3 separate regions of the Homo sapiens genome follow, and all the other regions are reported to be linked to region 1. Evidence: microRNA targets listed by miRTarBase, many of them from high-throughput screens and not tested one by one. Region 1 holds a microRNA gene; each other region holds the end of a gene's coding sequence.

Region 1 (5,070 bases):
CAATGGTGCAATCTCAGCTCACTGCAACCTCTGCCTCCTGAGTTCAAGGAGTTCTCTCACCTCAGCCTCCCAAGTAGCTAGAATGACAGGCGCCTGCCACCATGACCAGCTAATTTTTGTGTTTTTACTAGAGATGGGGTTTCACCATGTCGGTCAGGCTGGTCTCGAACTCCTGACCTCCGTGATCCACCCACCTCAGCCTCCCAAAGTGCCGGGATTACAGACGAGAGCCACCACGCCCGGCCTGTCCAGTCTTGTTCTGCAGTCCCCAATGGGGATTTTTTTTTTCCTGTTCATTTGTCTTTTTATTTTAATCTACTTGTCCCTGACACTGAAAATTTTTCCTTCCTAACAGCTTACCATCATTTCTCAGAATAGACCTGCTTCCTCTGTGAGAAGCTTATAGTTGATTCAACCCTCAACCACTAATGCCAACAACCCTAGTGAGTTCTTTTGACTACAGCTGGACCATTTATCCTGTTTCCTGTGGGTAGCGGTTCCAATGTACCATTCCAACAGGCAAAACCTCGCCTCTGAATACAGGTTGCTTGGCAAGATCTAAAATGTTTGCTGTGCCTAATATAAACTATTGTAAAGAAAATCCATCTCAATCACAGTGACAAATGTCACATGAGACAAAACCACAGATATTTTCGCAAAAATAGGGTCCTTTAGAACCCTAGAAGGGTCTCTCTAGTAACAGGTGGGATGTTCAGCAGCTCTTGTTGTTGCCACAGTGAGCGATGCCTGTTCGTCCAGCCCTTAACACCTCTTACTCCATGGAAGTTCTGCCTGCACTGCTTTATAGAACACCTCTTGGGTTGAGGTAGAGTTGGAGGGGACCTCAGTGTCCCTTGCTGATGGGATGTGCACTGCTTAGCAAGCGCACGGAGGTGGAGTGCATGGGCTCTGAGTTTTTATTGGGTAAATGCAGCCGAAATGTAGTGTGCATGAACAGGTCAAAAAATTGCACATTTGATTTAATTTTTAAATTTTAGAGATGGGGGTCTCACTGTGTCACCCAGACTAAACTGGGCTGTGCTCCTATGCGTACCCTAGTAGCTGGGACTTCAGGTGAATATTAACCCATGCATAGGCAAGGAGAGAGGAAGGCTCTGACAGTCTGTGATCTCCCCTCACTGCAACCTCCACCCTCTGGACTGGGAACGTCAGGGCACTGCACCGATGCAGGCAGGATGAGCCGAGGGGAAAGGAGAGCCAGGCATCACTGGCTGGGGACATTTTGGGTTTGATCTGGATGGAGCAGGTGTCTCCTGGAGAGAGAGCCCCTGGGATTTTCACTCTGCTCCCTGGCTGTCTTAGTCATGGAATCTGACAACAGAGACTCCTGCCCAGGGCCACTTCATTTGGTTTCTGGACCCCAGTGGTCCTTCCTGCCTGGACTTAGGATCTTTTGGGGAAGTTTGGGATCTGGCAGGGCATCTGCATAATCCATAGAAATCCCTGAGAGTCACTTCCCTTGGCTGACATCTCCATGTTCCTACCCATTACCTTCCAAAGGAGACCCTTAACTGAATTACCAAAGGGGGCTTCCCAGAGCAGGGAAACCCGGTTAACTTTCTATTTCAGGTCAACAGTATACTTGAGATGTACTTGAACTAGAAATGATTGGTTGTTTAGGTGTGGGCATTTGTTTTTCCTAACTTAGTCTCCAAGAAAAAAAATTATTGAGGTTTTACAGCCTAGCCTGTGGTCTATCCTGAAGAATGTTCGTGTGTGTGACAATGTACATTCTTTTTTTCCCCCCAGCTCTGTCAAATCTTACTGAGGAGCTTTTACGGCCTAGCCTGTGGTCTGTCCTGGAGGGTATTTGTGTGTACAACAATGTATATTCTTAAACATTATCTTAGATTCCATTTTGGATGTTCCCATCAGGACTGTGTGTTTCTGTGCTGGAACTCAAGTGAACACTGGCTCAACATCCTTAGAAATCCAGCCCAATTCTCTTGGTTAAAGATAAGGTATGTGTGGTAGGCATTGCTTTTTCTCTTTGGGGACAAAACTCAGGAGGATTGCCCCTTGATGAACAAGGCTAACCTGCTAAGCCTTTGAAGCAAGGAACTGGAGATGGTCCTTTCAGGGGTTTATGTTCTGGATTCCATAAAACATGCAAACAGGGGCAATGAATGCACCTTTTTTATTTTTATTTTTATTTTTTTTTGAGATGGAGTCTTACTCTTGCCAGTCTGGAGTGCAGTGGCACGATCTCGGCTCACTGCAACTTCTGCCTCCTGGTTCAAGTAATTCCCCTGCCTCAGCCTCCCGAGTAGCTGGGACTACAGGTACATGCCACCACAGGCGGCAAATGGTTGTATTTTTAGTAGAGACGGAGTTTCACCATGTTGGCCAGGATGGTCGTGGTCTCTTGACCAGCCTCCCAAAGTGTTGGGATTCCAGGCGTGAGCCACCGCGCCTGGCCAATGAATGCATCTTTATTTTTGTGTTCATTTTAATCTGGTAAGGTAAATTCCAACAAAAAACCCAGAGTTTTGGAGTGAGAAGATCTCATGCAGTCATTCTCCAAAAGAAAGCACTTTCTGTTGTCTGAAAGCAGAGTGCCTTCTTTTGGAGCGTTACTGTTTGAGAAAAACCACGTTGAAGTTGATGCTGATCTTGGTAACACATTTGCAGAGCGTGCTTATCATCAGACTTGCATGATGTTGGGGTTCTGTTTTTGTTTAGTTTTTTTGCAACACAGGGTCTCTTGCCCAGGCTGGAGTGCGGTGACACTTCCAACCTAGACCTCTTGGGCTCAGTTGGTCCCTGCCCCCACCCCCTCCCCCTTTTTTTTCTCTTGAGACAGTCTCTCTCTGTGGCCCAGGCTGGAGTGCAGTGGTATGTTCTCTGCTCACTGCAACCTCTGCCTCCCGAGTAGCTGGTATTACAGGCACATGCCACCACGCCTGGCTAATTTTTGTATTTTTAGCAGAGACGGAGTTTCATCATGATGGCCAGATTAGTCTTGAACTCCTGACCTTAGGTGATCCACCTGCCTCGGCCTCGCAAAGTGCTGGGATTACAGGCATGAGCCACTGTGCCTGGCCCACAACGTATATTCTTAAATATCATCTTAGATTCCATTTTGGTTGCTCCCATCGGGACTGTGTGTCCCTGTGCTGGAACTCAAGTGAACACATGGCTCAAAATCCATTGCTGTTCTCTAGAAATCCAGCCCAATTCTCTTGGTTAAATATAAGGTATGTGTGGTAGGCTTTGCTTTTTCTCTTTGGAGACAATACTCAGGAGGGTTGCCCCTTCGTGAACAAGGCTAACCTGCTGAGCCTTTGAAGCAAGGAACTGGAGATGGTCCTTTTAGGGGTTTATGTTCTGGATTCCAGAAAACATGCAAACAGGGACAATGAATGCATCTTTATTTTTGTGTCCATTTTAACCTGGTAAGGAAAATTCCAACAAAAACCCAGAGTTTTGGAGCGAGAAGATCTCATGCAGTCATTCTCCAAAAGGGAGCACTTTCTGTTTGAAAGAAAACAAAGTGCCTCCTTTTAGAGTGTTACTGTTTGAGAAAAACCACGTTGAAGTTGATGCTGATCTTGGTAACGCATTTGCAGAGCGTGCTTATCATCAGACTTGCATGATGTTGGGGTTCTGTTTTTGTTTAGTTTTTTTGCAACACAGGGTTTCTGTTGCCCGGGCAGGAGTGCGGTGGCGCTTCCAACCTAGACCTCTTAGGCTAGTTGGTCCCCCCTACTTTTTTTGTTGTTTTTGTTCTTGAGACAGAGTCTCACTATGTGGGCCAGGCGGGCAGGCAGTGACACATTCTCTGCTCACTGCAACCTCGGCCTCCCAAGTAGCTGGTATTATAGGCACGTGCCACCACGCCTGGCTAATTTTTGTATTTTTAGCAGAGATGGAGTTTCACCACATTGGCCAGGTTAGTCTTGAACTCCTGACCTCAGGTGATCTGCCCGCCTCTGCTTTCCAAAGTGGTGGGATTACAGGCATGAGCCACCCTGCTCGGACTGCAGGGTGTTTTTTTTTTTTTTTTTAATTATTATTTGTATTTTTTTGTGCTGCCAAAGCAAGCACTTGTGTGTAGGAATTTTGTTTGTTTGTTTGTTTGTTTGTTTGAGATGGAGTCTCATTCTTGTCGCCCAGGCTGGAGTGCAGTGGCATGATCTCGGCTCACTGCAACCTACGCCTTCCGGGTTCAAGCGATTCTCCTGCCTCAGCCTCCTGAGTAGCTGGGATTTCAGGTGCATGCCGCCACCCCGGCTAATTTTTGTCCTTTTGGTAGAATCGGGGTTTTGCCATGTTGGTCCGGCTGGTCTCAAACTCCTGACCTCAACTAATCCACCTGCCTCGGCCTCCCAAACTGCTGGGATTACAGGCATGAGCCACCGCACCCGGTGAGGAGTTATTTTTAATGTGAGCAAACAGTATATTCTTTTTTTTTTTTTTCATAGACAGGGTCTCAACAATATATGATGTATATTTAATCATATAGTCTTATCATGTATATAATGTAGTCATATGTACACCAAACCCTGTTCTACACACGGAGAATACTCTTGTATCACTTTGGGTATTTATTTACTTGTTTCTTTCTGTGTTTTTCTTGTTTGTTTGTTTGTTTTGTTTTGAGACAAGGTCTAGCTTTATCACCCAGGCTGGAGTGCAGTGGTGCCATGTCGACTTACTGCAACCTCCACCTGCCACCTCAGCCTCCTGAGTACTTGTCTACAGGTGCGCACCACCACACCCAGCTAACTTTTCTATTTTTTGTGCATAAGGTTTCACCATATTACCCATGCTGGTTGAGCTCGAACTCCTGAGCTCAAGTGATCCTCCTGCCTTGCCCTCTTTAAGTGCTGGGTTTATTGGTGTGAGCCACCACGCCCCACCCATACTTGTGTATTTCTGTATTTATTGAGGAGCTTATACAGCATACCCTGTGGTCTATCCTGCAGGATGTTTGTGTGTGAGACAGTGTATATTCTTGAACATAGTAGATTCCATTTTGGATGCTCCCATCGGGACTGTGTGTCCCTGTGCTGGAACTCGAGTGAACACTTGGCTCAAAATCCATTG
Region 2 (5,070 bases), not on the chromosome of region 1:
TGGAAGCCAGGGGAGTGATGGTTAAAATTTCATCCTGGAGGGTCAGGGTGTCCTATACCTGTAACCTCAACACTTTGGGAGGCTGGGACAAGAAGATTGCTAGAAACCAGCAGTTCAAGACCCCATCTCTTCAAAAAATATTGAGAAGGAAGCCAAGCATGATAGTGTGAACCTATAGTCTGGCTGCTCGAGAGGCTGAGGCAGGAGGATCACTTGAGCCCAGGAGTTTGAGGTTGCAGTGAGCTATGATTATACCACTTGCGCTCCAGCCAGGGCAAAAGTGAGACCTTGTCTCTTAAAAAAAAAAAAAAGTTGCTTCCTCCTGTGGTGCAGGGGGTATCAAATTAAGGTCTGTGCCTCAGGTTAAGCTGTAAGGCAGGTGAGACCCACACCTGAACATGCTTAGAGACACTGCAAAGCAGTGTTAGAATCAGAATTGGTTTTTAGGATGCAGAGTAGTGTTCTCCCTCCACCTCTATCAGCTTCCCATGCATTTGTAGCCTGAATACATCAGTTTGTGAGAGGATGGTGGTCAAGTTCTTTGGGGGAAGGGAGTCTTGGATCCATGGGTTTTAATTTACTCTTTTGTTTCTTTGTCTTTCAGGGTGCTGCCCCACGTCCCCCACCAAAGCCCATGTAAGGAGCTGAGTTCTTAAAGACTGAAGACAGGCTATTCTCTGGAGAAAAATAAAATGGAAATTGTACTTAATATTGCATGTTAAGTGTATCTGTGCCAGATAAGGTGGGGATTTTGTGTGTTAGACCAAGTGTGAAGTGACACACATTATTTTCATGGGGAAGAAAGCTTATTCATGTAATTTAATTTTTTTCTTTTTTTTTTTTTTTTTTTTGAGACGGAGTCTTTGTCGCCCAAGCTGAATTGCAGTGGCGTGATCTCAGCTCACTGCAACCTCCGTCTCCCGGGTTCAAGTGATTCTCCTGCCTCAGCTTCTTGAGTAGCTGGGATTACAGGTGTCTGCCACCATGCCTGGTTAATTTTTGTATTTTTGGTAGAGATGGGGTTTCACTATGTTGTCCAGGCTGGTCTTGAACTTCTGACCTCAGTTAATCCACCAGCCTTGGCCTCCCAAAGTGCTGGGATTACAGGCTTGAGCCACCTCGCCTAGCTATTTATGTAAATTAAACTTTAATTGTGGTCGTATGGTTGGCCTCACAATTCGCATAGCTGTGTGAAATGGAGATTAGGCATCTGAATTTTGGATTTAACCACATCAAGTTTAAGTTGGCATCCTAAAAATGGGTAAACATTAGGAGAATGAGGAAAAGCTATTAGTTGAGTGAGGAGCACATTGGGAAGTGACCTAAACTGAGGTGTTTATACCCCTGGAGGGGGAACTTGAATAGTGGATGTATGACTTGGATAGCTTCAGAGCATAAAAGGATTAATGTTCAGATGCTCATCTTCCTACCTTGGAAAAGACACTAAAGGCATTTCTAGAAACGAGACATCCCGGAAATATAAGGTAGAGAAAGGCTCTACCTTATTTTTGTCTGTATGACAATAGTTTAATTTGTCCTAGAATTCAGGAAAAAAAAAATCTATTTGGGAGTAAATTGTTACTGACTTCGCCAGTGAAAGGTAACACCTGTATAGCTTGGAGATTTTAGACACTTGGGAGTCACCTGCACCCCTGCCCCCTTTCAAGCAGTTCTGCCTCAACCTCCCAAATAGCTGGGATTACAAGCATGCACCAGCTAGTTTATTTTTTTGGTAGAGATGGGGTTTCACCATGTTGGCCAGGCTGGTCTCAAACTCCTGACCTCAAATGATCCACCTGCCTCGGCCTCCCAAAGTGCTGGGATTATAGGTGTGAGCCACTGCACCCAGCCTAAGGAACGGGTAGAGATTTTAGAATGTGGAGGTTCTGTTAATTGGAATGCACTCCCCAACAGAAATCTGAGACAAGAACTGCTGACCTGACTTGACTGTCAGTACACCAGTGTTTGTACTGGAATATCTGTGGCAAACCCGGAGTGTGTAAGAGCACTGAATGTAGGCGATAATCTATATCCTTCAGGGAGTCTCAAGACATCAGTGCCCCTTGCAACCTGATCACACCAAGGGTAAACAGGAAGTGATAGAAGAAAATTAAGAGGTCCAAGGCAAAAATGGGTACTGAATCTGAGTGATCCCAAAGTCCAGCTTGCTCAACAGAACCAGATTCAAATAGTAAATCGTGATTGTGGGTGTACTTACAGAGCTGATCCAAGATTCCTCTTGAAGTGTCTAGAGTCACAGCCTGTCACGTGGGTCCTAACTACTACCTCTTCTGTGGGTTTACAAACTCACAACATACTCTGCATTCTAAGCGCAGAGTATGTTGTTTGATTGTCTCCATAGATTCTACTTTCAAGAACCTAGCTGGTAAGAATTGACTTAGTTTTTCGTCTTAATAATCCCAAACTTTGTTGTTTTTGAGATGGAGTCTCTCTCTCTTACCCAGGCTGGAGTGCGGTAGCCCGATCTCGGCTCACTGCAACCTCCGCCTCCCGGGTTCAAGTGATTATCCTGCCTCAGCCTACCAGTAGCTGGGATTACAGGTGCCCGCCACCATGCCCGGCTAATTTTTGTATTTTTAGTAGAGATAGGGTTTCACCATGTTGGCCAGGCTGGTCTTGAACTCCTGATCTCAAGGGATCAGCCCACCTCAGCCTCCCAAAGTGCTGGGATTATAGGCGTGAGCCACCGCGCCTGGCCAGGAATCTGCATTTTAATAGTGTCCCAAGTGATTGTGATGCAACTGGTCTGTGGACTATACTGCAGAGCAGATGGTGAAGGGAATGTTGCATTTGGAGGATTTTATTGATGATGAATCCTGGGTTCCAGAAAGCTGTGAAAGGGTTTCAGGAGATGGGGAAGAGTGCAAATGGGGTCAGAAAGGACTGCATGAGAACCAGAATCTGAGAGACGTGGAATGAGCTGGAGGCTTGGGCTTCTGGTGGTGACTGCACGAATAGGTGCAACTGAGCCATGGTGAACATCATGCTCACAAGCCAAGTGTGCAGTGTGACTTGGAGTCCCAACTCACTATCTACAGGCCCAGGGACCCTGACTTCACAGCTGCCTCCCAAGGCTATTTTCCTAACCTTTTCTCTCTACTCTCTTAGATCAGTGTTGGACTCATCATTTCTGAAATATGAGAATGTGTGGGAAGGCAGCAAGGTGAGATAGGCCCAGAAACATTGGGAGGGGTGTGGGGAGCACTAGGAGAGGAGGAGATCGATTGGGGTGGGGAAGAGGAATACAGTCTCCCTCCCACATCCCTGGACCCCAGAAAGAAGTCCTGAAGACACATCCTTTTTTCTAGTATAATGCACTATTTACCCTGATTCAGGCACTCTGAATGAAAGGTGACTTCCGGATCAGGCGCCCTGGCTCACGGCTGTAATCCCAACACTTTGGGAGGCTGAGGCGGGTGGGTCACCTAAGGTCAGGAGTTTGAGACCAACCTAACCAACACGGGGAAACCCCATCTCTACTAAAAAATACAAAATTAGCCGGGCGTGATGGCACGCGCCTATAATCCCAGCTACTTGGGAAGCTGAGGCAGGAGAATAGTTTGAACCTGGAAGTGGAGGTTGCAGTGAGCCAAGATCATGCCACTGCACTCCAGCCTGGCGAAAGTGCGAAATTCTTTCTGGAAAAAAAAAAAAAGAAAAAGAAAATTGGGTGACTTTCTCAGGCTACAGTTAAAGATGATGTCATGAGTAGTTAACCAGGCCTCATTGATGTTAGTACCTCGGGATGACCATAGAGGGCAGTGTCGTGCAGGAGTTAAGAGCCCAGCTTCGGAGTCTGACAGACCTAAGTTTGAGTCCTTCCTTCGCTCTTTGGTAGCTTTGTGTGTAGCTTTGGGCAAGTTACTCTATCTAAACCTCCAAAAATTAATTTAAAAACACTTCACAAGAACATTTTGAGAACTAAATGAAATAATCTTTGCAAAGGACTTTGCAAAGAACCTGCCAGATAGGCCGGGCGCGGTGGCTCACGCCTGTAATCCCAGCACTTTGGGAGTCCGAGGCGGGTGGATCACGAGGTCAGGAGATCGAGACCATCCTGGCTAACATGGCGAAACCCCATCTCTACTAAAAAATACAAAAAAAAAATTAGCCGGGCGTGGTGGCGGGTGCCTGTAGTCCCAGCTTCTCGGGAGGCTGAGGCAGGAGAATGGTGTGAACCCGGGAGGCGGGGCTTGCAGTAAGCCGAGATCACGCCACTGCACTCCAGCCTGGGCGACAGAGCGAGACTCCGTCTCAAAAAAAAAAGAAAAAAAAGAACCTGCCAGATAATGCAACATTACAAATGGCAGTGGTTACTATTTTTGGCCCAGTCTTACTCTGTAAGTCTTAAAAAAAAAATCAGTGTTTTTTTGCAGATTTATTGAGGATAATTGAAGTATAATACATTGTAGGTATTTAACGTGTACAATTTGAAAAGTTTTGTGTTTGTTTTTTTGAGACAGACTCTCACTCTGTCACCCAGGCTGGAGTGCAATGGCGCCATCTCGGCTCACTACAACCTCCGCTTCCCAAGTTCAAACAATTATACTGCCTCAGCCTCCCGAGTAGCTGGGATTACAGTCATGTGCCACGAGGCCCACTAATTTTTGTATTTTTAGTAGAGACGGGGCTTCACCATGTTGTCCAGGCTGGTCTTGAACTCCTGACCCCATGATCAGCCTGCCTCCGCCTCCCAAAGTGCTGGGATTACAGGCATGAGCCACTGCGACTGGCCGAAGTTTTGACATATACCCAAGTGTATACCCATGAAACCATCACCATACTCAAGATAATTAACATATAGATCACCCCAGAAGTTGCCTCTTGCTCCTTTGTAATCTCACCATCCTGCCACTCCCAGCACTGTCCCCAGGCAACCACTGACCTGCTTTCTGCAACTATAGATTAGTTTGCATTTCTAGAATTGTAGAATCGTACATAAATGGAATCCCACAGTATATATGTGTGTATACTAAAAACATATAAATTAGCCAGGCATGGTGGCAGGCGCCCATAATCCCAGCTACTTGGGAGGCTGAGGCAGGAGAA
Region 3 (5,070 bases), not on the chromosome of region 1:
TCACTTTCTGCAAGACAAGGACCAGCCTCAAAGAGGAGAGCATGGTGTCCTGAAGGAGATGGCGGCCACCATCACCTGTCCTGTGGCTTTCCTCTGACTGCCCAGGTGGGGGCCCAGAGGCGGCGCCTCTCAGTCCAGCTTTGAGTGGAGTTACATAATTTCCAGGCTTCCCTGCAGTTCTCGCCTCCCCATCCCTGAACTGTTTACACAGTAGCTCTCACCCACAAAGAGTCCGCATGATGGCTTTTCCTCTGTTTGGAAGATGTGGATGGCTGTGTCCCAAGTTTTTCCTACCTAAGATCCTTTTCAGTAGGGGATGGATTTGGTCTATCTGATGATCAAGAGTTCAGGGTGGCCTTTGTGATAGTGTTACACCCCCTCCCAGGTCCAATAAACAGTCTTCTGACAAATAATGGCCCTTCCTTTTCCTTCCCCACCTGTCCACCACCTGGTAATGTGATGTAAGCGTGGCAAAATCCCACACACCCCTTCCAGAAATCCCAGGACTCGTGTGGGAAATACTGTCATAATTAAAGCCTTCTGAGAAATTGCTGCTTCTTCCTTGAACTTACCTACTTTTGAGCGGTCCTTTAATCCTGCATTAAGGGGATACCCCCCCAAAAATGGTTCTACTTAATTATCCCCCCTTCCTCACTCCTTTCTCCTCATGAATCAGGCAAGCCTTTTTTTTTTAGATGACCCAGATGCCCAAAGCAATAATTACATTTCAAGGGTATTTTTTAAGAGTATTTATTCCAAACACAATGTTCACTTTAAATGCAAAATAGCTGGTAGAAAAAAAAACACTGAAAAATATACTGACCCTTTGCCCCATATACAGACATCAGCCTTTGGTATTTGCTTTCAGGTAATTAGGTAAAACAAACAAACAAAAACTTGAAACTATTATTTATCTCCAAGAAAACAACGTAGAGTTGAGGTATTCTATTTAACAGATGTGATCTCCATCCAATAAGGTCTCTCTGTTAATTAACAGCCTTGTGACATGCTGTTCCAATCCTTTCCTCCTAAAGTAGAATTTCATTTGAGCATATGTTCATAAAACTGACAGTGTTCCTTAATAATCACTAAGGTTGCCATAGAAACTCCCTGGTGCTGGTGCCCAGCCGCACGGAGGACAGGAGGCCTTCACAGGGCACTGAGGAGGGCCTGGCACGGACCCTGAACTGGCCCGCCTGCCCCTCCGTGTGCAGCCCCTGCCCACGGCTGCACGGGACAGCTGGGTGCAGGGCTCTTGCCTCAAAGGGTCACAGGTTGCCCCTGCATCTCCAAATTAAGACCACCAACTCCACCTGGAGCTGGTGTCAGCATCCTCCCCACCTGGGTTAGCCTTCTGGACGTGCTGTGAGATAATAGAGCTCAGCACCAAAGCAGCTGGGAAGACATTCCTGAACATTCTCCAGGAAACAAACCCATAGACCACAACATGCCCAGCCTGCCCCACTGGGCCCTGTTCACTACCAGGTGGGCTTCCAGCCTGGTTCCAGCAACAGATTCCACAACCTGCCGCGGCAACCAGTTTCCTTTCTCCCAAGACAGCAGGGAAGTGCCAGAGGCTCCGTGTGAACTCAGAGCCTGATAAAGAAAGCGTAAGGGCAAGTCCCCATCAGGGCCAAGAGCTCTCTGAGTTACCAAAGGCCTCGTCAACATAGCCAGTGCTACCCCTGGACACATTTCTTGAAAATATTTCATTAATGCTACAAACATTATTGATCATTTTACTTTAGGCCTTGAACCAGCATATTTTTTACTTTCCCCACCCAGCAGGATAAGCTGTCGTATTTAACCTAAATGGTCTCTGTCTCAGCGTTTCACGTCTGGCTGCGTGGCAGATGGCTACAGGTGTTAGGCAAATAACAGCACTGCTGGGGACTCAAGGCAGTGGGGGTGCTGCAGAAACACAGGTAGAAATGCCCCGTGCATTGAGACACATGTTCAGTCACCACAGATTAGAGAACATAGAGAGCTTAGGATGTATACCTGTGTACGCTGAGCCAGGCCTACAGCCCAGAGAAGACATTTTTTCTTCATTTACATTAGCTTATGAAAAATAAAGGGAAAACAACCCTCTTCAATACAAAAACAAAAAAACAAAACAAAGCAATTCCATTACAATAAAAATGAAAGCAATAACAATTTGGAGATCAAAGCTGCCTAGCTCTTGGCAATAATGAGCTATCTGGATTTCACATCTTCCGCTAGCATGGTTCTGCCCGGCTTTGGTAACACCACATGTGGGTAAAACGGTATAAAGAATTGAAGAACTGTGGGCACAGAATCACCCTTACTGCAGATTCTCATTCTTAATATTTCCCTTTAACAGCATTTTGCTGTTCTCAAGTCTCAGAAACTTTATGTGGTGGGATGGGAGGGAACCACCATAACCGCCTGCCTGCCTTTTTTTTTCTTAACTGTTATTGTTCATAATAGAGATGGTGTCTCACTATGTTACCCAGGTTGGTCTCAAACTCCTGAGCTCAAGCAATCCTCCCACCTTGGCCTCCCAAAGTGCTAGGATTACAGGCGTGAGCCACCGCGCCCGGCCATCCTGCCTTTTTGCCAACCTAAGATGAGTTGCCTCAAGCAGCAATAGGGTCTAAAATCTACAGACAAGCCCAGCAATGAAAATCACGGCTTACTGAAGACAGTAACAGCTTAAACCTGGAAAACCGTAAACAAAACATGGTCACTTTCATCCTTTCGCACCTGTCTGGTGATGGTGGTGGTTTTTCTAAGAGGGTAGAGTATTAGAAAAGTTTTGTGGTCTGGTAAATATTGGGTCCATGGTTACACGGCTGATTTAAATCATATCCCCACTCTGGAATACCCTGATAACTTGAGAGCTAACTGGGTAACCACTAACACCACTGAATTTTCAAAGCTCGGACAGAAAAGTCAGCTGAAGTGGTTAATCATGGTGTTACAACTAGACATTTAGTCCTGCTTCAATTCTTGCAGAGCTGAATCAACTCAAGGAACTAAATAAAAAGAGGAAGGCACCGAGGTAAGGGATTTTTTTTAAATGGGATTTTTTTAAAACCTCTTTGATAGCAGAAAGCTCAGGGCTTTCAGGGTGGGGAATTTCTAGGACCCTGCCGGGCAGTCGTGGGAGGCTTCCTTCTCGGCACTGGGACAGGGACCGGACACCCTCTCCATAACCACCTGGGGGAGTAGTCACACGCTGGTTTTTCCCTAGAGTAGAGAAGAGGCAGGCTATTTTTCCACTTTTTAAGACAAAAACAAAATACAGAATGAAACCACAATCTCTTCTCTAATAGGGAAAATATTTTTTCTTTTTCTTTTTCTTTTTTTGAGACAGGGTCTCACTTGCTCTGTCACCCAGGCTGGAGTGCAGTGGTGCAATCTCGGCTCACTGCAGCCTTGACCTCCCAGGCTCAAGAGATCCTCCCACCTCAGCCCCCCAAGTATCTGGGACTTCAGGCACACTCTACCACACTTGGCTAATTTTTATGCTTTTTGTAGAGATGGGGTTTTATCACATTGCCCAGGCTGATCTCAAACTTCTGGACTCAAGTGATCCTCCTGCCTCGACCTCCCGAAGTGCGTGGGCCACCATGCCTGGCAGGAAAATATTTTTTCTCTTCCTCCTTTTTCACTTGACTTGGTTTTGGGCTAAACAAAGTTATGGTGCTTCCCCCACACCTAAGTAAGTTACTTCTATGCTGACACAGCGAATATTGGATATTCCACCCTCTCAAGAGAAAACAGTCAGCAGTTTTTTAAAAACCAAGTTTAAACACATTCTTGCCAGGCTCATTTTTCTTTTCACATTGTCTTCCTTAATATTATCTTCCCTAGTTACCCAGGTTCAGCTGACAACAAACAAAGCTGCAGTAAAACCGTTTTGATCTCAGAAATGGCAGAAGCCCTCCCTGCTGCTAGCTCTCCTTTGTGGGAGGTGGAGAAGAGAGAACATTGGTTTTCAGAGGCTGTGATCCCCCACTCAGCTCCCACTCTACAGGGGATGGTAGAGACCCTGTGCCCCTCTCCTCTCCTTCCTCTGCTTCTCACCTGAGGTCCTGCAACCCAAAGCCAATGCAGTTGCCTCTGTATTCAGCAAATGCCTAGGATCATCATTCACATTTAGCAAAATGCTAATGAGGAACTAATTATAATTCTGTTGAAAACGACCAGGCCCTGAGATACTGTATTATTCACCCACTCACCCTCAGCTGTTTTTCAACTGTAGGGAAGAAAGGGAGGAGAGAGCTTCTTCCCCCAGCCTTGGCGGTTTAAGTAAAAGCCGTCCCCAGGCCTAGAAAAACAGAATTTGCTAAGGCACTTGGGTTTTAAGAGTTTGAGTTGGAAGATGAAACGATGCAGTGGGCCAGGAGCATGGCGGCTGGAGGAGGCTTTGGCTGGAAATCCATCCCACCTGCCTGAGGGTGCAGCTTGTGCAGAGGTGTTGAGGGGTGGGCTGCCAGCCGCTTCTCCACACCGAGGCCCCCACCAACCTGCCCAGCTTTTGAGTGTCCGTGTGAGTGTCCAAAGAGTCTTGATATGGTTCTCTTCACAGTGGCCCAAGTTCACTCTAGCCCCTTTAAGCTGGGCATTTGGAAAGGGAGGTTTGAAACCTCAACCAGCTGAACAGCTGGAGCAGGCTGATTTTCCCCTGGCGTAGAACCTTCCGCAAGGCTCTTCCGTGAAGCCAAAGGCCGCACACCCCTGAGATAAGCTGGCATGGCAGTGAGAAGCATCTTTTGCTGAGCCCGTTTGTGTTTTATCATCCACAGGGTCCAGGCTGCTGGTGCCACCCAGCCAGCTATCTGGGGAAGAAGTAGTCTGTATTGCTGATGTCATAAGGGCTCCGTGGGTCCCTGGCATCTGGTCGGTTGTGGCTCGAGGTATTGTCAGACCCCAGGCTGCTGGGGGACACCGGTGGGGAGATGAGAGGAACAAGCACTGGGGTGGGTCGAGGCCTCTCCGGGACCAGCTGCCCCAAAGAGTACGGCGGATGCATGCTTGTCTTGCCTTCCTTCAGAGCCCGCAGCTTCCACGTCTTCTTGAACCTTCACACAAACACACAAA

Evidence for each region. Region 1 holds the annotated microRNA hsa-miR-519e-5p (UUCUCCAAAAGGGAGCACUUUC, at 3,475-3,496, shown strand). A microRNA usually pairs through its seed, bases 2 to 8, with sites in the 3' UTR of a target mRNA and lowers its output. Matches are read on the target gene's strand: a 7mer-m8 pairs with bases 2 to 8, a 7mer-A1 pairs with bases 2 to 7 and ends in A, and an 8mer does both.
Region 2: miRTarBase lists RPS26 as a target of hsa-miR-519e-5p. Seed matches in the 3' UTR shown: 7mer-A1 at 679-685.
Region 3: the mRNA of IL6R is a reported target of hsa-miR-519e-5p. Seed matches in the 3' UTR shown: 7mer-A1 at 4,471-4,477, 7mer-A1 at 1,417-1,423, 7mer-m8 at 1,287-1,293 and 7mer-m8 at 914-920.

What each region holds. Positions count from the first base shown.
Region 1 is chr19:53,676,479-53,681,548 of GRCh38, forward strand. It overlaps MIR519E (microRNA 519e), which reads left to right and starts at 3,462; the gene lies at 3,462-3,545. MIR515-1 (microRNA 515-1) reads left to right here and starts at 2,525; the gene lies at 2,525-2,607. The region is part of intron 2 of LOC107985342 (a long non-coding RNA gene); the gene reads left to right. RefSeq lists an enhancer at 1,217-1,717.
Region 2 is chr12:56,043,515-56,048,584 of GRCh38, forward strand. RPS26 (ribosomal protein S26) reads left to right here. Exons shown (of 4, transcript NM_001029.5): 4 at 605-1,183. The coding sequence ends at 640. Among named protein-coding and RNA genes, the nearest start is that of RPS26, 4.1 kb to the left of the region's middle. RefSeq lists enhancers at 2,507-3,100, 3,691-3,985 and a cis regulatory region at 3,590-3,964.
Region 3 is chr1:154,465,115-154,470,184 of GRCh38, reverse strand. It overlaps IL6R (interleukin 6 receptor), which reads right to left. Exons shown (of 10, transcript NM_000565.4): 10 at 735-5,051. The coding sequence ends at 4,805. It also overlaps a transcript of SHE not described here. Among named protein-coding and RNA genes, the nearest start is that of TDRD10, 35 kb to the left of the region's middle. RefSeq lists an enhancer at 4,719-5,070.